Linked DNA regions of Homo sapiens. The protein of the gene in region 1 purifies or fractionates together with the protein of each later gene. This does not show direct contact. Each region holds a gene or a part of one and is shown in the gene's direction. Other genes may lie near its edges. The genes, in order: ZNF71, PWP2, POP1, RBM28, NVL, DDX27 and KRR1.

Evidence for each region.
Region 2: the proteins of ZNF71 (region 1) and PWP2 purify together in Homo sapiens (affinity purification with mass spectrometry; 2 studies listed by BioGRID and IntAct, with this or other methods). This does not show direct contact.
Region 3: the proteins of ZNF71 (region 1) and POP1 purify together in Homo sapiens (affinity purification with mass spectrometry; one large-scale study listed by BioGRID and IntAct). This does not show direct contact.
Region 4: the proteins of ZNF71 (region 1) and RBM28 purify together in Homo sapiens (affinity purification with mass spectrometry; one large-scale study listed by BioGRID and IntAct). This does not show direct contact.
Region 5: the proteins of ZNF71 (region 1) and NVL purify together in Homo sapiens (affinity purification with mass spectrometry; 2 studies listed by BioGRID and IntAct, with this or other methods). This does not show direct contact.
Region 6: the proteins of ZNF71 (region 1) and DDX27 purify together in Homo sapiens (affinity purification with mass spectrometry; 2 studies listed by BioGRID and IntAct, with this or other methods). This does not show direct contact.
Region 7: the proteins of ZNF71 (region 1) and KRR1 purify together in Homo sapiens (affinity purification with mass spectrometry; one large-scale study listed by BioGRID and IntAct). This does not show direct contact.

Annotation. Positions count from the first base shown.
Region 1 is NC_000019.10:56,619,302-56,622,143, forward strand, and holds part of ZNF71 (endothelial zinc finger protein induced by tumor necrosis factor alpha), read left to right. Parts: intron 1-1,966; coding exon 1,967-2,842. UniProt on the Homo sapiens protein: May be involved in transcriptional regulation.
Region 2 is NC_000021.9:44,127,899-44,131,398, forward strand, and holds the end of PWP2 (periodic tryptophan protein 2 homolog), read left to right. Parts: intron 1-33; coding exon 34-252; intron 253-348; coding exon 349-499; intron 500-653; coding exon 654-728; intron 729-2,698; coding exon 2,699-2,873; 3' UTR 2,874-3,283; downstream 3,284-3,500. UniProt on the Homo sapiens protein: Part of the small subunit (SSU) processome, first precursor of the small eukaryotic ribosomal subunit.
Region 3 is NC_000008.11:98,127,293-98,130,792, forward strand, and holds part of POP1 (ribonucleases P/MRP protein subunit POP1), read left to right. Parts: intron 1-302; coding exon 303-470; intron 471-1,072; coding exon 1,073-1,248; intron 1,249-2,685; coding exon 2,686-2,934; intron 2,935-3,500. UniProt on the Homo sapiens protein: Component of ribonuclease P, a ribonucleoprotein complex that generates mature tRNA molecules by cleaving their 5'-ends. Also a component of the MRP ribonuclease complex, which cleaves pre-rRNA sequences.
Region 4 is NC_000007.14:128,312,909-128,316,408, reverse strand, and holds part of RBM28 (RNA-binding protein 28), read left to right. Parts: intron 1-1,388; coding exon 1,389-1,645; intron 1,646-3,134; coding exon 3,135-3,234; intron 3,235-3,500. UniProt on the Homo sapiens protein: Nucleolar component of the spliceosomal ribonucleoprotein complexes.
Region 5 is NC_000001.11:224,229,173-224,232,672, reverse strand, and holds part of NVL (nuclear valosin-containing protein-like), read left to right. Parts: exon of another isoform or gene 1-25; intron 26-1,376; coding exon 1,377-1,447; intron 1,448-3,500. UniProt on the Homo sapiens protein: Participates in the assembly of the telomerase holoenzyme and effecting of telomerase activity via its interaction with TERT. Involved in both early and late stages of the pre-rRNA processing pathways.
Region 6 is NC_000020.11:49,222,416-49,225,915, forward strand, and holds part of DDX27 (probable ATP-dependent RNA helicase DDX27), read left to right. Parts: intron 1-541; coding exon 542-601; intron 602-852; coding exon 853-1,018; intron 1,019-2,529; coding exon 2,530-2,576; intron 2,577-2,697; coding exon 2,698-2,784; intron 2,785-3,500. UniProt on the Homo sapiens protein: Probable ATP-dependent RNA helicase. Component of the nucleolar ribosomal RNA (rRNA) processing machinery that regulates 3' end formation of ribosomal 47S rRNA.
Region 7 is NC_000012.12:75,505,110-75,508,609, reverse strand, and holds part of KRR1 (KRR1 small subunit processome component homolog), read left to right. Parts: intron 1-163; coding exon 164-336; intron 337-1,693; coding exon 1,694-1,828; intron 1,829-2,000; coding exon 2,001-2,126; intron 2,127-2,210; coding exon 2,211-2,294; intron 2,295-3,355; coding exon 3,356-3,412; intron 3,413-3,500. UniProt on the Homo sapiens protein: Part of the small subunit (SSU) processome, first precursor of the small eukaryotic ribosomal subunit.

The DNA of each region.
Region 1 (2,842 bases):
ATTAAACACCAACTCCCACCCACTCCTCAGCCCCCGGCATCCTCTGTTCTACCGTCTGTCTCTGGGAATCCGACCTCCAGGTACCGCAGATGAGTGGAATCACATGGCATCCATCCTTTCATGTCTGATTTATTTTACTAAGTCTCTTTGATGGGCTTTGCTTTTTTAAAAAATGTTTTTCATGGGGAAAGTCTGAAATCCCAAGTTTCGTATCGGATGTGTTAGGCTTGGGCTATCCAGTTGAGATGCTGGGCTTTTTTGAACAGTTTGGACATAGCCCAGAAAGCAGGTCTGGGCTGAAGGTGTATGTTTGAGCAGCATCAGCCTGTGGATAACGTTTAGATCCAGACTCACTTTGTGTGGCTTTGAAGGTCCAGTGTGATTCAGGAGAGTGGTCTCAAACTCAGGTGGCCTCAGGAACTACCAGGTGGATCATTTATGTGGAGGAGGGGGACAGCTGCTGCCCCATGCAATGTCTTGTTGCCCATAAGAATGAGGCTCCACGTGGCCATATCTTCATGTTTTTTATGAGCTAGCAGCCACATGGACAGCAACTTTTAAATGCTGGGAATGAGTCCCCTGATGCAGAGTCTAGACTCCACCTAGGCTAGAAATCGAGGTTTAGAAATGAACAGGATACACGTGGAAGGTGATTGAAGCTGTGGGCACAGAGGTATTTAGCCAGGGAGGGTGGATGAGCAGAGAAAGAGGGTCTGAACCCAAGCTCCACGGAATGCCTGCCACCCAAGAACTAGGCAGCGTGTGACGTAGCAACAGAAGCAATTGTGAGACCCCAAGTCATGTGATTATTGTGGGCTCAAGTGAGCGGTCCTGTGTGTATGAACACTTAGTGCTGAGGCTGATGAGAGGGCTGGGGTGCGGGAGGGCTGGGGCCAGCCAGGGCAGGTGCGTGATGAGCTAGCGGGAGCCGGAGCCCCAGCCAGGGGAGAGGATCTTGCAGCCAGCAACCCTGGGGCAGCCATACCAGAGAAGTGGCAAAGGGGCAGGAGAAATGCCCGATTTTTCTCTCATTTCACTTCCAGTTTCCTGCCTTTGGCCAAACACACAGGAAGCCAGTGGGCAAAGTCAGCATCCTGAGCACAGGGCAGGTCAGAGAAGGGTGGAGAATAGAAAGTGGGTCGAAGGAGTAGAGAATAACCAACACATGCCATATAAATGCTAGCTATTTATTATTTCTTTATTCTTTTTCTTCTTTTTTCAATATTTATTTATTTATTTATTTTTTAAGAGACAGGGTCTCACCCTGTCACCCATGCTGGAGTGCAGTGACGTGATCATAGCTCACTGCAACCTCGAATTCCTGGGCTCAAGTGATCCTCCCACCTCAGCCTCTCAAGTAGCTGGGACAATAGGCATGTGCCACCATGCCTGGCTAATTTTTAAAAAAAAATTTAGTAGAGGCGGGGGTGGGGGGTCTCACTATGTTGCCCAGGCTGGTCTCAAGCAATCCTTGCCTCAGCCTCCCAAAGTGTTGGGATTACAGGCATGAGCCACTGTGCCTGGCCATCTTATTATTTCTGATAAAAACTGTTGCTTGAGGAGCACGACTGGTTGTGGATCTGCAGGATGAAGTGAGGAGGCCCTGCAAGTCAGTAGCCGGCTGCAGTCATTCCTACTCAGGTTTGCAGAGCCTGCCCTTTGCTCCCTGCAAGCCCAGCTCACTACTGCAGTTTCTCTCCAGGAGTGCCTGTCATCCCTCTTCTGAAGGGACATTTGCTCTCCCTGTTCACCTCCTGTGTTGACTCTGCTTCATAAACCACATTGGCCTCAGTTCCATGCCTCCCTCCTCCCTCCCTCTCTGATCCAAGGTTCTTCTTTGCTAACTCGCTCTGTGCCTTGGGCCTCATTGGGGTCGGTTTCATTTGCTCCTTCCTGCTGTGGAGCTTCCTCACTCCCAGCATCTTTAACTACATGTATTTGCATCTTCTGTTTTTGTTTTTTTCAGACTGGGAGACTAGACCTGAAATGAAAGAGTTGGATCCAAAGAATGACATTTCGGAAGACAAGCTCTCCGTTGTTGGGGAGGCCACGGGGGGACCCACGAGGAATGGTGCCAGGGGTCCTGGCTCAGAAGGAGTGTGGGAACCAGGCAGCTGGCCAGAGAGGCCGCGGGGAGATGCAGGTGCAGAGTGGGAGCCATTGGGAATTCCCCAGGGGAACAAACTCTTAGGGGGCTCAGTACCCGCATGTCATGAACTGAAGGCATTTGCCAACCAAGGCTGTGTCCTGGTCCCACCACGGCTGGACGACCCCACAGAAAAGGGGGCCTGTCCACCCGTAAGGCGTGGCAAGAACTTCTCCAGCACTTCAGACCTCAGTAAGCCCCCCATGCCCTGCGAGGAGAAGAAAACCTACGACTGCAGCGAGTGTGGCAAGGCCTTTAGCCGAAGCTCGTCCCTGATAAAGCACCAAAGGATCCACACGGGAGAAAAGCCGTTTGAGTGTGACACCTGTGGGAAGCACTTCATCGAGCGCTCGTCCCTCACCATCCACCAGCGGGTGCACACGGGCGAGAAGCCCTATGCCTGCGGGGACTGCGGCAAGGCCTTCAGCCAGCGCATGAACCTCACTGTGCACCAGCGCACGCACACGGGCGAGAAGCCGTATGTGTGCGACGTGTGTGGCAAGGCCTTCCGGAAGACTTCCTCTCTCACCCAGCACGAGCGGATCCACACGGGGGAGAAGCCCTACGCGTGCGGGGACTGCGGCAAGGCCTTCAGCCAGAACATGCACCTCATCGTGCACCAGCGCACGCACACCGGGGAGAAGCCGTACGTGTGCCCCGAGTGCGGGCGAGCCTTCAGCCAGAACATGCACCTGA
Region 2 (3,500 bases), on another chromosome or scaffold:
AAATTTTTAGGAAAGCACTGCTTAATTTCCCAGGGCGCTGCTGGGCGGCCACCACCACGGAGGGACTCCTCATCTACTCCCTGGACACCCGCGTGCTCTTTGACCCGTTTGAGCTGGACACCAGCGTCACCCCCGGGAGGGTGCGCGAGGCACTGCGCCAGCAGGACTTCACCAGGGCCATCCTCATGGCCCTCCGGCTCAACGAGAGCAAACTGGTGCAGGAGGCCCTGGAGGCGGTGCCCAGGGGCGAGAGTGAGTTGGGGCTTCGGTGTCGGGCGCCGGGGTCATCCTCTCTTCCCCTGGTTTGAGTTGGTGGCAGAATAAGCATGATTTTTTCTCCTTTTGCAGTTGAAGTGGTCACCTCCTCCCTTCCTGAACTGTATGTGGAGAAAGTGCTGGAGTTTTTAGCTTCCTCCTTTGAAGTGTCTCGCCACCTGGAATTCTACCTCCTCTGGACTCACAAACTGCTCATGTTGCACGGACAGAAGCTGAAGTCCAGGTAGAGGGTCTCCCCCGCAGTTCATCGGTGGCTCAGGTCACTGGACCAGCTTGTCCTGCTGGATAAAAGGGAACTTTGACATGCCAATGCAGCATGAAGTGAGCCCACTGTACCACGGGGTGAGCCCCGCACGCTTAGGGAGTCTCCCTTTCAGAGCCGGGACGCTGCTGCCTGTCATTCAGTTCCTCCAGAAGAGCATCCAGCGGCACCTGGACGACCTGTCGAAACTGTACGTGTGGGTGCAGGGCCTGGGGGTGGGTGGGGTGCACGGTCCCCTGCTGGTCCACACTGTGGAGTGCTCCTTGTGTCATCTGATTTGAGGACAAAAGGAACCAGTGCTGGAGGCTTGTCTTCTCACCTGCGGGTGAACTGCACCTGCCCGGCCACCCCGTGGTTGAGCAGCTTGGGAAATGGCCTGGCGCTGAATGGAAAGCAGTGAGCACTGTGGCAGGCAGACAGGCTGCAGGTGGCGCGCTCCAGGTGCGGCCGGAATCCTCCAGGCTCTTGGAGGGATTGCCGCATTCGTAGGACCAGGCAGCCTTTCCTGAATTTGCAGGTCACTTGCACAGGCAGTGGGGGTGGTCACAGGACTGTGAGGCCAGGCAGCCTGGAGTCCTGGAGGTGTGGCTGCCCTGAGCTGTGGCTCCCCTAGAAAAGGGTGCTGTTGCTGCTGCTGCGAGGATTCATCCGCGGGCCTAGGACAGGGCCTGGCCCTCCGCAGTGCTCACTCTGCAGGGGTGCCCGCCTCTTCTCCTGTCATTTCTTTGTGGTTTGTGCCTTTTTTGTCCCTACCAATTCACCTTCCCTAAAGGTCCTGCAGAGCCGGGACTAGGCAGGCCTCAGAGTAGCCATGTGAGGGATATCACCCTCTGTTGCCAATCAGTTGCCGGGTTTCCCAGCTGCGTTTCTGAACGGTCTGTTCTCTGTCCTGTTTGCGAGTTGCTCTGTCCAGGGTTCAGGGGCAGAGCCTGAGTTTGGGCCTTGTGGGTTCATGTGGTCCTCCTGTCTGTCCTTGAAGTGTCACTCAGTCTTTGGAAAGAGTCCTGGAGTCCAGGTCGAGCCTGTCCTCCCCTCGTGTTCTGGGTGCCCTACAGAAGGCTGGGATGTGCCCTGATCCACAGTTTTGGTGCCAGGCCTTCCCTCGGCTGAGATGTCCTGGACTTTTCACAGAGCTCTGTAGGGGAGGAGGGTTGTCTAGCTCCCTTATTTATGTATTTATTTATTTTTTAATTCATTATTATTATTATTATTATTTGAGATGAAGTCTCGCTCTGTTGCTTAGGCTGGAGTGCAGTGGCGTGATCTCGGCACATTGCAACCTCTGCCTCCCAGGTTCAAGCAATTCTCCTGCCTCAGCCTCCCAAGTAGCTGTGGTTACAGGCACACGCCACCACCCCCAGCTAATTTTTGTATTTTTAGTAGAGACAGGGTTTCACCTTGTTGGCCAGGCTGGTCTGAAACTCCTGACCTCAGGTGATCTGCCTGCCTCTGCCTCTCAAACAAAGTGCTGGGATTATAGGTATGAGCCACCATACCCGGCCCAGCTCCTTTAGATTTATTCCCTCTTATGGGATGTTTTTAGAGTTCACGTAAGTGCATTGTTCCTTGGACCTCCTGTCTAGGCGTTCACTGCCAATCTGTAGGGTTGCCATTGGCTGTCAGGAAGAGTCCTGCACAGAGGGTCCTGTGCCCTGCAGATGCGATGGGGCGCTTCCTTCCTTTCTCATCCATTTATCTTTCAGTTCTCCTTTCCTATGTAAAGTGATGGTGGCATCACTTTTCTCCTTTATTCCATTAACTCAGAAAATTAACTGATTCAGAGCGTGCCTTCCTCCCCTCTCGCTCCACAACACCACATAGCTCTGCAGCGGTCTCTTCCTAAGTGTTTGGTGGAACTTGCTGGTGAAGCCATCTAGATTGGGCCCAGCGGAAGGGCTGAGCTGCCAGGATGACCCCAAAGGGATGGGATGTTACAGTTGGGTCCTTGGGTCCTTGAAGGCCTTTGCTGCCCCAGGGCTGGATGGGGCAGAACCAGATTGTTGGGGCAGGGAAAAGAGGAAAAAAATGGCTGCTGGGGTGGAGGAACCGGCATGTCCAGCCCCTGCTGCTTTTCTCAGGGGTCACAGAGGAGGTGGTTGGGTGCAGGACAGGCCAGGGCCTGGGCGTTGCTGGCATTGACCATCCCTGTGTGATTGACAGCTGTAGCTGGAACCACTATAACATGCAGTACGCACTAGCAGTTTCCAAGCAGCGGGGCACAAAACGCTCCCTAGACCCGCTGGGAAGTGAGGAGGAGGCAGAAGCATCTGAAGATGACAGCCTGCATCTGCTTGGAGGAGGAGGCAGAGACTCAGAAGAAGAGATGCTGGCCTAGAGCCAGCCGGTTGCAGCGTTGGATTGTGCCGGCTAAGACCTGCCAGGGAGATGGGACCCTTGTGCCACCTGGGCCAGCAAAGAGGAGGGGTCCAGAGAACAGCTGAAATACTGTCACTAGTGGTAGTGACTTGCTTTTCCTGTGCACACATGTAGCCCATCAGGACAGCGAGCCGACGGGTCACGCCAGGGGCCGGCACGCACTGGCACCTGGCCCCAGGAGCGGGGCCGTGTGAACGGTGATGAATGTTGAAAATGCGTCTCAGAGAGGTATTCACATGAACTTTGTATGAGACTTATTTATATCTTTAACATAAAGGTTTGATAAAGAACTTAGGGATTAAAAAAAAGATGGAGTTTTCTAACGTGAGGATGAAGTCTACACTTCAGATTAAAAAGGGTTATGTTGTATCCTGCTGTCTTGTGGGGGCTCAAGACCTGCCTGCCTTACCACCAGGGCCTCCGTCCTGGGGAAGCAGGCTGACAGAGCAGGGTGCTCCTGCTGTCTAGCGGGGGCTCTGCCTTGTGACCTGTGCATATCCTTGGGGTCAGGGGCACAGAGCCTCTCCCTGACCTCTTGGGGATGCTTTGGAGTCTGGGGCTGGGATTGGCCTGTCTTGGTGAGCTC
Region 3 (3,500 bases), on another chromosome or scaffold:
TTGAAATTCATGTTGCACCGTTTATAGGAGAAAATTTCACCTGTATCTGTTATATCCAAGGTCCTTTATATGTCATCCTGACATGATTACCTTGTGTGCTACCTACTAGCTTTGTGACCTCGAGCAAGTTAATTCACCTTCCTACGTAAGATTCCTCTTTAAAAATAAGTAGTAATAGCCACCTTACAGGGTGACTATAGGATTAAAAACATGGTCAATGTTGCCACCCAACAAATATTAGTTCTCCACTATAATGTTTATCTCTGATAAAGGTGACATGTTTCTTTTTGAAAATATACTAGAGCCTCATCCTGGAACTTCACGACAGCGGCAAACCAGAGTCAACCCCCATTCTCTGCCTGACCCTGAAGTGAATGAGCAGTCTTCCTCCAAAGGGATGTTTAGAAAAAAGGGAGGATGGAAAGCAGGTCCCGAGGGCACGTCTCAGGAGATCCCCAAGTATATAACTGGTGGGTACTCATAAAGAGGTGCAGTTTGCTTGTATTTTGAACTCTCGTGTCTAGTGCAGCAACAAACTGCCCTCCTTGTGGTCCTGGCTCTGCCTCCCCTACCTCTCCTCTCCTCCTCCTACTTTAGACCCTTCTCGCCTCTAGCCTGGACTTTGGCCAGAGCTTCCTTGGGCTTGATGGCTCTCCCTTCTTCAGTTTCTCTCCCTGTCTCTTACTCTTCTTCTTACAAGTCTTTGTGAACTGTTCCTCTTTGTCTTAGCCCCCGTGCCCCTCTTGTTTTAAATATGCCATCCACACTCAGCACAGCATTCTCCAAGGATGGAAAATTGAGTACACACAAATGGCAACCAAACCTTTATTTAAAGGGCCTGTCTCCAGGCCCTTTCCATCCTCTTCTGTTCTTCACCCTATGATCCCCATCCACACTACCACAATTAAACCCTATATTCCTTGTACCTTGTACCTATACCTTAGATATGCTTTCTGGTCTCTCTTTACGCCTTCTTGGTGGAGGAATTCAGTTAAGTTTCCCCAGCAGCCTGTTTATTCTCCAATGTTAATTCAAGATTGGTGTTTAATGACTTTGTCATCTCCTTCAACAGCTTCTACTTTTGCTCAAGCACGAGCTGCTGAAATCAGTGCTATGTTAAAAGCTGTGACCCAGAAGTCTTCGAATTCACTGGTTTTTCAGACTCTGCCACGGCACATGCGACGAAGAGCCATGAGCCACAACGTCAAACGCCTTCCCAGACGGTTACAGGAGATTGCCCAGAAAGAGGTAGGAGTTCCACTTAGTGTAAATGTTTAGATTAGTAGCTCCTAGAAGAAATTGAGAAGTATTGACCTAATAGAATTTATTAAAAATGAAAACCAAGGCTGGGCATGGTGGCTCACGCCTGTAATCTCAGCACTTTGAGAGGCTGAGGTGGTCAGATTGCTTGAGCCCAGGAGTTCAAGACCAGCCTGGGCAATATGGCCTAACCTTGTCTCTACAAAAAAATCCGCAAATTAGCTGGGCGTGATGGTACATGTGTGCCTGTAGTCCCAGCTACTTGGAAACTGAGATGGGAGGGTACCCTGAGCCAGGGGAGGTTGAGGCTGCAATGAGCTGTGATCATGCTACTGTACTCCAGCCTGGGTGACAGTGAGACCTTGTCTAAAAAGAAAAAAAAAACTCAGAAAACATCACCCTTATGGTTTTTGTTTTTGTTTTGCATATATTTGATTTAATCATTATCCAAACTTCTTCCCTTCAAACGAAATTCACAGGCAATTGGCTATTATGGGTGCTTTGAAATATAGGATTTGATACTCCTCTCTTGTAAGGGTGTTGAATAGTTGATGTTCCCTTCCCAGATGTTAAAAAAAAACTCTGACCCTCTTACCGAGTGGTTTTGGATCTGTGTTTCTAGGGTGTGCCCAGCTTGGGGTAGGAAGGTTAAAAAAAAGCAATGTCAATGCTTAGCATTTGCTTTCTGACTTTTTCGAAGTTGAAAACTTGAACTGGGTTTTAATTTTTGTACAAGTCTAATTGTGTTTTGGCTTCACCAGAATTCTAGACTTGAACATTCTAAGATTAAGCCCATGTCTTTACTAATTGGTTTAAAACCTATTTATTGAGCAGCCTTCTATGTACCATTGCTATGCTGGTGGTGGGGTTTGAGTTCAAGAGGGAAAACTAACAAGGAATTTTATACTTTCTAGATTTAATATAAAATCTGTTTCCCAGTGATAGCATTCAGCATGTGTATGTCTGTAGCTTAACTGAGATGAAATGTATGGGTTTTCCTCACTTGTATTATTTTTGGTCTTAAGTTTTTGGTTTTAGTTACAATTCTACAGGTTAAAATGACAACAAGAAGCTAGCATTTGATTTCTTCTTTCTTGCCCTCTAATACTAATAGCCATATTAAGCTTGTGTTACTGTGTTGAACATTTTATAAGTATTCTGATCTTCATATTCCATGAAACTTGCCTAGTTAGTGAGTGATGGAACTGTGCCTCCTTCCTAGGTCTCCTAGCTCTAAAACATTCACTCTTTCCATTGTCTTCCTTCTCTACTTACATTGAAGAAACTAAGTTAACAATTTAAGCAAACTAATGGGATCTATAAAATATTCCACTTAATCTAAAGTTATTTGTTTGCATTCCTGACCGTTAACTCTGTTTTGAGATTCTTACAAACTGGGATATGTCCCTCTACTTGAAACTATAGGCGGAGAAAGCCGTACATCAGAAAAAAGAACATTCAAAAAATAAATGCCATAAAGCTCGAAGATGTCACATGAACCGGACGCTAGAATTTAACCGTAGACAAAAGAAGAACATTTGGTTAGAAACTCACATCTGGCACGCCAAGCGGTTTCATATGGTCAAGAAGTGGGGCTACTGCCTTGGGGAGAGGCCAACAGTCAAGAGCCACAGAGCCTGCTATCGAGCCATGACGAACCGGTGCCTCCTGCAGGTGAGCTTTTCCAGTGGGCTTTTTTTGTTATTTTTGTTTGATCCTTTTCCATAGAGGCCTTTAGAATAGTTTATGATGTGCCAAGCCCCGTTTATGTGATTATTCATTTTAAAAATAATTCCTGAGCATGAAGCCCGGGTCCTTTGCCAGATGCTGGAGATCAGGCAGCCTAAAGTTAGGGGGGTGACTGACATTAATCAAACGATTTACCAGATATGTGGTTGTAAGGGAAAAGCATACAGTATGATGAGCATTTCTAACCTAACTGGAAGGCGTCCCCCAGAAGTGCTGTTTGAGCTGAGCTCTAAGGGATAAGATGGGAGGAGAGGGGGAAGGCAGAAGGAAGCCAGGTGAGAGTGAAGAACTGGAATCAATTCTGTGTGACAGAGAAGAAGAGAAGGAGAACAAGGCAACATCAGGGCAAGGTTAGCCTAGAGAAAAGAGTAGGAACCAGGTCGTGCAGGTCTTGTTGATCATGTCAAGTTTTATTCACTATAGATTAATCTAACAGTCGTTCATCAATAACAGATATTTGAGAATCAACTGTGTACCCTGAACAGGGTTCA
Region 4 (3,500 bases), on another chromosome or scaffold:
AAATTACTTTATTTGTTGCCTGGATTTATATTCATACTGTTCTTTCTGTGTAAAAATGCCTCTACTCACTTTGCATATGCAGATCAAATGATCTCTTTCAAGTTGCATGCCTCCACCTCTCTCAAAAGATATAAGGCCCTCTTTACTTGATTTTCATGAACTTCCTTAAGCTGTGTAGTTTTTTTTACTTTGGTTTATTTGTGAATGCATCTCTTATCTCCACCTGGCTGTGAGTCCTGAAGGGTAGACACTATTTTTTTGTATCCTGGAAACAGACTGGCACACACTAGGCATATAATAAATGTTCATTGTATCGTTGTACCTATCTAGATTTCTAAGGTGAAAGGGAAGAACAACACACACTTATCATTACATTAATTTCACTTGAATCTTCTGTTTCTTCCACTTCAGTGCAAATACTTCTATAACTTCCTTGATGCCTTCCTTCCCACAGCATCTTTTTCTTGTCGTCTTTACTTCATTTATTCCATTCCTGATGTTCTTCCTTTCTTGAAAACGATCAGTTTCTGACCTATGTCATTTTTCTTCTCTCTGAAGAGATTATTTCGCATTTCTTGCAGACAGGTCTACTGGCAACAAATTCTCTCCATTTTCTTTTGTCTGAGTAAGTCTTTTCCTTCACTTTTGAAGGATAAGTTTATCGGATACAGGATTGTAGGTTGGTGATTTTTTTTTCTTTTAAAAATTTAAATATTAAATATCTCACTTCACTCCCTTCTTGCTTACATGGTTTCTGAAGAGAAGTCTTGGAAATCTCTCTCAATCTACTCTGGTTTGGGAGGGTGCCTATTAAAAACAAAAGAGAGAGAGATTTGATGTAATCTCATCCTTGTTCCTCTATAGGTAAAATTTTTCCCCTGTCTGGCTTCTTTCAAGATTTTATCTTTGATTTTCTGCAGTTTGTCTATGATATGACTGGTTGTAAATTGTTTAGTATTTATCTTATTTGGTCTTCTCTGAGTTCCTAGATCTGTGGTTTAGTGACTGTCATTAGTTTTGAAAAATTCTCAGCCCTTATTACTTCATTATCTTTTCTGTTGCTTGCTTTCTTCTTGTATTCTCCTTCTACATAGGTTACACCTTTGATAATTGTCCCACCTACTGACTTTTGAATTTTGGGCATGCACTCTCCCTTATTTCTGTGTTATGGGAAGGGGAATGGTTATTTTGTGCCCCCCACCCAGTAACCATCTGTTACTGTGGCAGGGCTTGTGATCTACATGTATTCACTTTCCTCTAGTCTCCAATTGTGTGGGGGAAGAATTCCTCTTCTTTCATCTAGCTCACATAAAGCTCATCTTCTGCTGAGTATTTGCAGCAAACAAAGCTCATCCAGAAACCAGATGGCATTTTCTTGTTTTATGCAGCAAAAAATGAGATCCAAGCCTGCAACTGGTGAGCCTCAGAAGGGGCAACCAGAGCCTGCAAAAGACCAGCAACAGAAGGCAGCTCAACACCACACAGAGGAACAAAGCAAGGTGCCCCCAGAGCAGAAGAGAAAGGCGGGCTCTACCTCATGGACCGGGTTCCAGACCAAGGCTGAAGTGGAGCAGGTGGAGCTGCCTGATGGAAAGAAGAGAAGAAAGGTCCTGGCGCTCCCCTCACACCGAGGCCCCAAAATCAGGTGAGATGCAGGAGGGCAGAAGCACAGAACAGTGGGTGGGTTCTAAGCGGGTTTGTTTTTGCTGAGTTATTTTCTCTTTGTGGCATTTGTTTGGTTGAAAAGGATGTTTGGTGCTATGTATTCCCACACATGGGGTTAACACGCGAGTCTTCAACACCATCAGAGATGTCACTCTTAGATCAATGGCAGAGGGGCCTCCTAGGGCAGGCTTTTGTGCCCCTTTTCTCCTCTTTTGAAGAGCTTCCTCTTGTCCAGATGGCCATCTCTGCCAGCTGAGACCACATACTTGAGGTTCAGTTGTAGTTTCTGTTTGGGACAGCAGATTAGTGCTCTACAAAAGTAAATCTTTACAAAATATTTGTTAAATAAATGAAGGTTTTTGAGATATCCATGGGGTTTTATTTATTTATTTATTTTATTTTTAGAGACAGTGTATTATTCAGTTCTTCCACTGCTATAAAGAAATACCTGAGACTGGGTAATTTATAAAGAAAAGAGGCTTGGCTGGGCGCGGTGGCTCACGCCTGTAATCCCAGCACTTTGGGAGGCCGAGGCGGGTGGATCACGAGGTCAGGAGATCGAGACCATCCTGGTTAACATGCTGAAACCCCGTCTCTACTAAAAATACAAAAAATTAGCTGGGTGCGGTGGCGGGCGCCTGTAGTCCCAGCTACTGGGGAGGCTGAGGCAGGAGAATGGCGTGAACCCGGGAGGCGGAGCTTGCAGTGAGCCGAGATCACGCCACTGCACTCTGGCCTGGGCGAAAGAGCGAGACTCCGTCTCAAAAAAAAAAAAGAAAAGAAAAGAGGCTTAATTGGCTCATGGTTCCACAGGCTGTACAGGAAGCATGACAGCAGCTGCTCATCTTCTAGGGAGGCCTCAGGAAACTTAATCATAGTGGAAGGTGAAGTGGGAGCTGGCACATCACATGGCCAGGAGCAGGGGGGAGTGTTTTAAACAACCAGATCTTGTGGTAACTCATTCACCGTCACGAGAACAGCACTGAGGGGATGGCGCTAAACCATTCATGAAGGAGTCATCCCCATGATCCAGTCACCTCCCACCAGGCCCAGCCTTCAACACTGGGGATTACAATTCAACGTGAGATTTGAGCAAGGACACAGATCCAAACCATGTCACAGGGTCTTGCTCTGTTGCCCAGGCTAGAGTGCAGTGGCATGATCATAGCGCACTGTAACCTCAACTCCTGGACTCAATCCACCTTCCTCAGCCTCCTGAGTAGCTGGGACTTTTTAATTTCGTTGTAGTAGAGACGGGGGATTGCTATGTTGCATAGGCTGGTCTCAAACTCCTGGCATCAAGCAGTCCTAAGTATACAAATGTTGAGCTTTCAGAGGGTCTGTTGCAGTATCCCTTTTTAGAATGACTTCACTTATCATGGGCTTGGGAAGGGCCAGTGTACAAAGAGAACCTAGGGGTGTCAAATTAGAAGAAGGACTCAAGGTGACACTCAGCCATGTTATTTCAGGTTGCGGGACAAAGGCAAAGTGAAGCCCGTCCATCCCAAAAAGCCAAAGCCACAGATAAACCAGTGGAAGCAGGAGAAGCAGCAATTATCGTCCGAGCAGGTGAGTTCTGCAGGACATACAGCTTTGGTATGGCATGGTTCTGCCAGGTCGTAGCCATGTTTGTACCTTGGTTAGTTGAGCAAAAAAGAAAAAAAGAAAGACTTCTGTGTAGGACGGTAGCTTTTTAGAGAATGTTGAGCTATACAATCTTAAAAGTGGAGAGAAAAAAGTAAAATGAACCTCCACGTATCTGTTCCTGTGTTTCAGCAGTCTCCTTGTTTTACATATTCCCCATAACATGCTTTCCCCACTAGAGTATATTAAAG
Region 5 (3,500 bases), on another chromosome or scaffold:
GAAAAAAATTGTCTGCTGGGTGTGGTGACTCACATCTGTAATCCCAGCACTTTGGGAAGCTGCGGCAGGAGGATTGCTTGAGCCCAGGAGTTTGAGAGCAGCCTGCGCAACAAACCAAGATGCCATCTCTATAAAAAATTTAAAAATTAGACTGGCATGGTGGTGCATGCCTATAGTCCTAACTACTTGGGAGGGTGAGGCCCAGGAGTTCGAGGCTGCAATGAGCTATGATTGCACCACTGCACTCCAGCCTGAGTGACAGAGCAAAACCCTGTCTCTATTTTTATTTTGTTATTTTTATTTTTATTTATTTATTTTTTTTGAGACAGAGTCTCGCTCTCACTCAGGCTGGAGTGCAGTGGCGCGATCTTGGCTCACTGCAAGCTCCGCCTCTCGGGTTCATGCCATTCTCCTGCCTCAGCCTCCCAAGTAGCTAGGATTACAGGCGCCGGCCACCACACCTGACTAATTTTTTTTTTTGTATTTTTAGTAGAGACGGGGTTTCACCATGTTAGCCAGGATGGTCTCGATCTCCTGACTTCGTGATCCGCCTGCCTCGGCCTCCCAAAGTGCTGGGATTACAGGTGTGAGCCACTGCGCCCGGCCTCCCTGTCTGTATTTTTATTTATTTATTTATTTATTTTCTAAACTTGAGTCTTGCTCTGTCGCCCAGGCTGGAGTGCAGTGCCGCGATCTCGGCTCACTGCAACCTCCACCTCCTGGTTCAAGCAATTCTCCTGCCTCAGCTTCCCGAGTAGCTGGGACTACAGGCGTGTGCCACCACACCCACTTAATTTTTTTTGTATTTTTAGTAGAGACGGGATTTCACCATATTGGTCAGGCTGGTCTCGAACTCCTGATCTCATGATCCGCCCACCTCGGCCTCCCAAAGTGCTGGGATTACAAGCCTGAGCCACCGCGCCCGACCTAAAGCTCCCTTCTAAACCAGTGCTGAGATATATTATATATAAAATATTCTATGATATTATGGCTCCATAAGATCTCATTGTGTGTTGCATACTCTTAAATATTAATACTATGGAATCCTACTTTCTATTCCAGTTACATTTATTTGAATTATCTGAATAATTCTGGCTCTTGTTCATAGGCATCACCATTAAGTTAAACAATGCAAAGAGGCCTACAAAAAGTTACCAACTTATGAGTGGCAGATCTCTTTGGGTGGTTTTGGATTAAAATCTGATGAGCAGAATATATCTGGCTAGAATACTGTTCTGAAAAAGAACAGAGCCCATCTCATCACTGATCTCTTTAGTGGACCCCTTGAAAGTTTTGAAGTCTTTCAAAGGAAGTTAAGTTCTAAGTCAGTTACCATACGATACTGAGATGTGTATATTTGTGCATTTACTCCATAGGTGAACTCAAGGTTAGTCATAAGCATTTTGAAGAAGCTTTCAAGAAAGTAAGATCATCTATATCAAAAAAGGTAAGCAATGCCATTAAATGCATAGAGAAAGGAAACTAGAATTTTAGACCAGTAGATATGACCTCATGAATTAAACTCTTTTTTTTTTTTTTTGAGACGGAGTCTTGCTCTGTCGTCCATGCTGGAGTGCAGTGGTGCGATCTCTGCTCACTGCAAGCTCTGCCTCCCGGGTTCACACCATTCTCCTGCCTCAGCCTCCCAAGTAGCTGGGACTACAGGTGCCCGCCACCATCCCCGGCTAATTTTTTGCATTTTTAGTAGAGACGGGGTTTCACCATGTTAGCCAGGATGGTCTCGATCTCCTGACCTCGTGATCCGCCCGTCTCTGCCTCCCAAAGTGCTGGGATTACAGGCGTGAGCCACCGCGCCCGGCTGAATTAAACTCTTTTACAGATTGTTTTGTATACTACTTCTACTTCCTAAAAAGAAATTACATGGTTCATTTTGATCTGAAAACAAGCAAAATAATTGCCTTTGTGAGAATGTTCTTGAGAGATTTTAATTTTATATGTTTCTTAGGGACTAGAACACAGTTTTCCTAACTAGATTCTCTAACAACTTTATTCAGAAAGAGAATGACCTCTTCTGCCTCCACAATCTCAGATTTTTTTTTTATTTTTTTGAGACAGAGTCTCGCTCTGTCACCCAGTCTGGAGTGTAGTGGCATGATCTTGGCTCACTGCAACCTCTGCCTCCTGGGTTCAAGCGATTCTTCTGTCTCAGCCTCCTGAGTAGCTGGGACTATAGGTGCGCACCACCATGCCTGGCTAATTTTTTGTATTTTTAGTAGAGACAGGGTTTCACCATATTGGTGAGGCTGGTCTCAAACTCTTGACCTCGTGATCCACCCGCCTTGGCCTCCCAAAGTGCTGGGATTACAGGCGTGAGCCACTGCGCCCAGCCCACAATCTCAGAATTTTAATCATCTGATTCAAGTATTATTTGACCTACTCTACGCTTTTTGATAAATGGCTTTGTATTTCTTGGAGCTAGACTGTACCCAAACTAAGCCATAGGGACTTACCCATACATTTCAGGGAAATAAAAACATCTTCACCATAGGTGGGAGAAGGGTTAAAAAAAAATCACTCTGGAGCTGGGCACAGGGGCTTATGCCTGTTATCTCAGCTACTCAGGAGGCAGAGGTGGGAGAATGGCTTGAGCCCAGGAGTTCAAGATCAGCCTGGGCAACATGGTGAGACCCTGTCTCTACAAAAAAATTAAAACTTAGCCAGGCATGGTGTCATGCACCTGTAGTCCCAGCTACTTAGGAGACCGAGGCAGAAGGATTACTTGAGCCCAGGAGGTTGAGGCTACACTGAGCCATGATCACACCATTGTACTCCAGCCTCGGTTACAGAACGAAACCTTGTCTCAAAAACAAACAAATAAACACAGAAGAAAAAACACACTTCAAGTATTTCTTTGGGATGAATACACAGGAGTGGAATTGCCACCCAACATTTAAAATGTTAATTTGCCAGACGCGGTGGCTCACTTCTGTAATCCCAGCACTTTGGGAGGCTGAGGCGGGCAGATCACGAAGTCAGGAGTTCAAGACCAGCCTGGCCAATATAGTGAAATCTCATCTCTACTAAAAATACAAAAATTAGCTGGGCGCGCACCTGTAGTCCCAGCTACTGCGCACCTGTAGTCCCAGCTACTCAGGAGGCTGAAGCAGAAGAATCGCTTGAACCTGGGAGGCAGAGGTTGCAGTGAGCCAAGATTGCACCACTGCACTCCAGCCTGGGCGACAGATTGAGACTCCGTCTCAAAAAAAAAAATTTTTTTTTAATTTGACCACAGTGAGATTCTACTACACACCTACCACAATGACTAAAATTTAAAATATTGGCAACACTAAATGGTGGCAAGGATATGAAACAGCTGGAACTCTTTTTATTTATTTATTTATTTATTTATTTTTTTGAGACAGAGTTTCACTCTTGTTGCCCAGGCTGGAATGCAATGGCACAATCGCAGCTCACCACAACCTCTGCCTCCTGAGTTCAAGCTATTCTCCTGCTTCAGCCTCCCGAGTAGCTGGGATTAC
Region 6 (3,500 bases), on another chromosome or scaffold:
TCTCCTGCCTCAGCCTCTTGAGTAGCTGGGATTACAGGCATGAGCCACTGTGCTCAGCCTTACCAGCACTGCATTTTCAAGATCGTCTGGAGAGGATTAAAAAAATTTTTTTTTTTGAGACGGAGTTTTGCTCTTGTTGCCCAGGCTGGAGTGCAATGGCGTGATCTCGGCTCACTGCCACCTCCGCCTCCCAGGTTCAAGCAATTCTCTTGCCTCAGCCTCCCGAGTAGCTGGGATTACAGGCATGCACCACCACACCCGGCTAATTTTGTATTTTTTTAGTAGAGACAGGGTTTCTCCATGTTGAGGCTGGTCTCGAACTCCTGACCTCAGGTGATCTACCCACCTCGGCCTCCCAAAGTGCTGGGATTACAGGCGTGAGCCACCGCGCCCGGCCTAAAATTTTTATATATATAATATGTATATGTATTTTCAGAGAAGGCCAAAATTTTTTCTTTTTCAAGTTAATTATGAAGAGTTTGTTCTCTTATTCGATGTTTCAATGAAAATTTCTTTTTCACCTCTTTATTTTTATCTGCAGAGGGCAGCCACTACATTAGATGAGAAGATTGAGAAAGTTCGAAAGAAAAGGAAAACAGAGGTGAGAAGAAAAGTGGCTATTTTTCGTTGTTAGGGCCCACTCTTTACTCTCACCACGACCCCAGCATCTCTCTGGAAGCCCTTATAGAGCGGGGCATGGCTGGGGCAGGCGCACTCTTCTGTGTGTTTGCTGTGAATCTGTACTGAGAATCCCCACAGCCGTTCATTCAGGCCGGAGAGCTTCCTATCGCTCTACTTAGGTTCTGGATTTCTAGAAGTTTCTCATCACCCTCACTTTAATTTTTTTCCCAGGATAAAGAAGCCAAGTCTGGGAAGTTGGAAAAGGAGAAAGAAGCAAAGGAAGGCTCTGAACCAAAGGAGCAGGAAGACCTTCAAGAGAATGATGAGGAAGGCTCAGAAGATGAAGCCTCGGAGACTGACTACTCATCAGCTGATGAGAACATCCTCACCAAAGCAGGTAGACGTTACGGCGGAGGTGTCAGTAATGGGGACAGGAGATCAGAAGGCATCCTCCTTTACTTTGTAGGGTTTCCTCCACTCTTCTGCACAGTTTATCTTTAAGCTGTTCTGCCTACTACATTGAACTCCTTTCTTTCTTTTTTTTTTTTTTTTAAGAGATGTTGGCTGGGTGCAGTGGCTCATGCCTGTAATCCCAGTACTTTGGGAGGCTGAGGTGGGTGTATCGCTTGAAGCCAGGAGTTTGAGACCAGCCTGGGCAACATGGTAAAACCCCATCTCTACTGAAAATACAAAAATAAGCTTGGTGTAGTGGCATGCACCTGTAATCCCAGCCACTCAGGTGGCTGAGGTACGAGAATCACTTGAAACTGGGAGGCAGAGGTTGCAGTGAGCTGAGATTGTCCCACTGAACTTAACCCTGGGCCACAGAATGAGACCCTGTCTCAAAAAACAAAACAAAAGAGATGTGGTCTCACTCCATCCACAGGCTGGAGTGCAGTAGTGCAATCATACCTCACTGGAAGGCTTGAACTCACTGGCTTAAGTGATCCTCCTGCTTTAGCTTCCTAAGTAGCTGGGCCTACAGGTGCATGCCCCTGCGCCTGGCTAATTTTTTTTTTTTGTAGGGACGGGGTCTTGCTTTGTTGCTCAGGCTAGTCTCAAATTTCTAGGCTCGAGCAGTCCTCCCGCCTTGACCTCTAAAAGTGCTGGCATTACAGGCGTGAGCCACTGTGCCCGCTGAATCCTTTCTTTTAGGTTTTCTTTTCTCTTGGGATTTTGTTTGGGTTGTTGTACTTCATAGGTAGTTTACTCTTTTCCCATCTAGCCCCATGCGGCTGCCAGATGCCACTGTGATACAAACTCATTTGGGGTGACATACTCAGATGGGTCCAGCCACATAGTGGGTGCTCAATAAGTATTTCTTTCTTTCTTTTTTTTTTTTTGAGATGGAGTCTTACTCTGTCACTCAGGCTGGAGTGCAAGTGGTACAATTTCAGCTCACTGCAACCTCTGCCTCCCGGGTGCAAGCAACTCTCCTGTCTCAGCCTCCCAAGTAGCTGGGACTACAGGCACACGCCAACACACCTGGCTAATTTTTGTATTTTTAGTAGAGATGGGGTTTCACCATGTTGGACAGGCTGGTCCCGAACTCCTGACCTCAGGTGATCCACCTGCCTCGGCCTCCTAAAGTGCTGGGATTTTAGGCGGGAGCCACTGCTTCCGCCCTCAATAAGTATTTCTTGCAGAAATGTGTGCTAAAGCATCATAATACAGTGTAGTGGTCGAGAGCCTGGTCTCTGGACCAGAGTCACTGGGTTAGCTTTCTCTCTGACCTTAGGCAAGTTACTTCACCATGCTGCCACAAAGTGTCCTCATCTGTGAAACAAGGTTGACGATGGTCACCCCTCAGAGGCTGAAGTGTGGCATTGGCACTTAGGACAGTGTCCAGCAGGATGCAAGTGCTTTGTAAGTCTGAGCCGTGGTCATCAGCTAAGTTTTTCTCCATAGATACACTCAAAGTAAAGGATCGGAAGAAGAAGAAGAAGAAAGGACAGGTGAGCTTGGGGCTGCAAGACAGTATGCAGCTTGTTGGCAAACCGAAAGGAGTTTAAGGTCGTTTGGGTTTCTTGGCTCTTTTTGTTGAATTCTCTTCTCTCTTTTGGTTTTCTGGTGTAGGAAGCAGGAGGATTTTTTGAAGATGCATCTCAGTACGATGAAAACCTCTCGTTCCAGGACATGAACCTTTCCCGCCCTCTTCTGAAGGTAGCAGCTTCTTGTCAAAAATTTTCTTTGTAGAAGCATGGTCTTGCTATGTTGTCCAAGATGGTCTCAAATTCCTGGCATCAAGCAATCCTCTTGCCTCAACCTCCCAGAGTGCTGGGATTTGAGCCACTGTGCCTGGCCAGTAGTGGCTTATTTTGGCAACCATGGGATTATTGCAGCCACCCCTAACTGGACTTTCTGCTTCTCTCTTTGCCTCCCTCAACTCTTGTCCATACAGTTGCCAGAGAACTCCCTTTTTTTTTTTTTTTTTTTTGAGACGGAGTCTCACTCTGTCGCCCAGGCTGGAGTGCAGTGGCACAATCTCGGCTCACTGCAACCTCCACCTCCCGGGTTCACGCCATTCTCCTGCCTCAGCCTCCCCAGCAGCTGGGACTACAGGCACACGCTGCCACGCCCTGCTAATTTTTTGTATTTTTAGTAGAGATGGGGTTTCACCGTGTTAGCCAGGATGGTCTCGATCTCCTGACCTCGTGATCCGCCCGCCTCAGCCTCCCAAAGTGCTGGGACTACAGGCGTGAGCCACCGCGCCCGGCCGAGAACTCTCTTAAGCAATGAGTTCCATCGTGTCCCTCCTCTTCTTCTCTGAGTCCTTCAGTACTTCCCAGTCTCACTCTTCTTAGAAGCCTGAGTCCTTATATTGACCTACAAGGCTCTGCCCCTTCTGGCCCTCTCTGACGACACCTCCTGGCACTCGT
Region 7 (3,500 bases), on another chromosome or scaffold:
TGAATAATATAAAAAGCAGGGGAAAAGGAAATGCAAGGAGTATTGGAAGGTTTGTGAATATGTGCATAGGATGTTCATAAAGTGTCCAAAAGACAGTTAAAATGTGATGTGTATGTCCAAAAGACAGTTAAAATGTGATGTGTAAATTTTTTCCTTTCTGTAGATGAATCAGAACTCCTTACGGTTCCTGATGGTTGGAAGGAACCAGCTTTTTCCAAAGAGGACAATCCCAGAGGACTTTTGGAGGAGAGCAGTTTCGCAACTTTGTTCCCAAAATACAGGGAAGCTTACTTGAAAGAGTGTTGGCCATTGGTGCAGAAAGCCTTAAATGAACATGTATGTGTATCTTATATCAATACATTTATTTGAGACTTTGCTCTTGCTTATGCCTTTAAATGTATGTATGCTAATGCTTTTTTTTTTTTTTTAATGGTGCTAACATAGCTGGTTACTTTGGTTCCTTTGGTATTCTAAACTATTTAAGTAAGTTTTCTTCTTACCTAATGTTCATTTGTTTTAATTTTATGAGTAATAAATTACTTTGAAAAATTTACATACCTTTAATATTTTAGGAGCTTCACAACTGTCTGAAATTCACCTGTGAAGTCCCAATTTCAGTATGCCTGCTCCAGGCCATGATAGTTGTCATGTATCTGTCCCAGTCTGAGCTGAGTCATGTTTCTAATTGATTACCTTTCATCTTAAATGGAAGATGTGGATGTGTCCAACTTTTCCTTGTTTATTGCTGATGCTATGCCCCTAGATAACTGCATTTTTTTTTTCAAACTGGGGATTGAAACCCATTAGTGTATTGAGAAGTCAATTTAATGGCTATAATGAGCCTTTAGAAAATGACATATCACATGGTAAAAGTATCTTTTTTTGATATTGGCTTTGTTTGTGTGTGTGTGTATATGTATTAGGTTGTGATATAAAATGTGTTTCTAACTGTGGGACTGCTCTGGAGTTGGTTGTGCCATTGTGGGTGAAGGTGGCTCAGCAAGCTGCAGGTTGTGTTTTGTAGCTGCATCTGGGATTGAGCTCATTTTTTTTTTGTAAACTCATAGAGACTCAACCATATGTTGAATTGTTCAGCACTTAACTATGTTGAAATATTCTTGAGATTATGCTCACAAGTGAGAAAATAGCATTTTAATTCGCTTTGTTGAAATCTGTTTTTTCCTGTTGAAAGTTAATGCTTAAGTTTTCTAATCATTGCTTTTTTCTGAAACTATGATAATTTGCTTTTACTTTGTATTTAGTCCCCTAATTAGCTCGAAAAAAGTTTGAAAGGGAAAGTCAATTCTTACCCAATGGAGCAGATGGTAGACTGGAGCTGGGTCCAGAATAGGGAAGCTGTACAGCTTTACATTTTTACCTTAGTCAGATTTTAAGTATGACCTCATTTGTTTGATTTATAATTTTTAAATTAGAGGCAATCTATATTCCAGTGGGTACAAAGTATTCTAAAACCAAGGGTAAATGGTTTCAATTGCTCCAGTTTCTTATAGTCTGTAAAGTGTGAAAGTAATTGAGTATTCATTATTTATACTTAACTACCTAGCTTCTTCAGGGAAGTAATTGATAGGAATTGAGAGGTGACAGAAATTAATAGGTTGGTTAGGAGAGGCTTTATAATTATCTAAAAAAACTCATTTTTAGACAACTGCTTGTTTGCTCTTTCCTTCTGTAGCATGTTAATGCAACCCTGGACCTGATCGAAGGCAGCATGACTGTTTGTACTACAAAGAAGACTTTTGATCCATATATCATCATTAGGGCCAGAGATCTGATAAAACTGTTAGCAAGGAGTGTTTCATTTGAACAGGTAAATCTAGAATTACAGAGACTTTGCTTTGTTTGCATCAGTGTTAACCTATAACATCCCACCATCAAGTTTTCATATTTGTGCTTAGGTAACAATAGCGTGGGCCTGGAAAATGAATGTAATTGTAAAAAATGTTGATAATGTCTTCTTTTTTTTTTTTTTTTTGCAAAAGGCAGTACGAATTCTTCAGGATGATGTTGCATGTGACATCATTAAAATAGGTTCTTTAGTAAGGAATAAAGAGAGATTTGTAAAACGAAGACAACGGCTTATTGGTCCCAAAGGATCTACATTGAAGGTATTTTTTAATTAGTGGAAAACTTGAGTCTCTTCCTTAATACTTTTTCAGAGTAATGAATTTTAACTTGATCTCTTGATACAGGCATTGGAACTCTTAACTAATTGTTACATTATGGTTCAGGGAAACACAGTTTCAGCCATTGGACCTTTTAGTGGCTTAAAAGAGGTGAGAACTATGTATTATCTTCGATTCATTTTCAGCAGAGAACAAATAATTTGGTTATAATATAGTTTATTGGATAATGCTTTATAATTTTATTTCTTTAGAATGTGCTTTGATTTCCCATTAGTAAATACTTTTTATGTCATATAATTCAAGGGAATCATCATATCTGGACCCTAACATGTTTTGGCCAACCTTGGCAACTATGGAGACATCCATTTCTGAATTAGATGGTCTGCACACTATTACTCCTCCCACTATAAAATTTAAATGAGCATTAAGATCTTCAGTCTGTAGCATGTATGAACATGGTATAGTTACATATGTCCAAATGACGGGAAAATTGAGCAAAAATCCAGTTATTTGCAGTAGTGTATACAGCCAGTAGAGGTCACACTCTGAAAACTTTTCTTCAAGATGTAGTTTCTTTTGTTTGAATTTTAGTATAATGTTTAATAACTTTTCATGAACATTTTCTTTAACTTCTCAAATTACATGTGGTGAGGAAATCTGTGGAGCAAATGCTGTTTCTGTTAACTCCTTTTGGTACTATTACTGTCTGGATCTGGCTTGTGAGGTTGTGCTTCCTTTCCAGGGCCTTTAATAGTAATCCTATTGGCCTTTTTTGTCATAAATTGTCTGCTCTTTTCTCATGGAGCAATAATTAAGTATATTGAATACAATTCTTACAAGAGAGTCTTGAGGTATATGGTTTTATCTTATATTACAAATGAGAAAGCTGGAACAGGAAAGTGATTTTCCTGTATGCAGTGGCAGTCCTTGTATTCCAGCCCTCTTCCTCCTAAATCACATTGCTTTAGAGTGTTGTATTAGTTCTCTGTGCTACATTTTAGCAGTAATTGAGAAACTGTATTGTATTCAAGGGAGATTGACTGCCTTTATGAAAGATGGAGAAGCCACTCAGAGCAGTTGAAGGAACTACTTAATTATTTAATTACATTATTTAATTTGGTACCCATTACCTGATTTTTGCAGTATTAATCCTCTTCTCCATAGCTCATTAAAATCCTTGTGACTAATTCATTTTTCTTTGCAAATTTCAGGTTAGAAAAGTAGTCCTTGATACTATGAAGAATATTCATCCAATTTATAACATTAAAGTGAGTGGTAATTATATATAACTGTACCAGTGATTATCATACTTCTTTTAGCTACAGAAACCTTTCTTGAAATTAAATGTTTTATGAA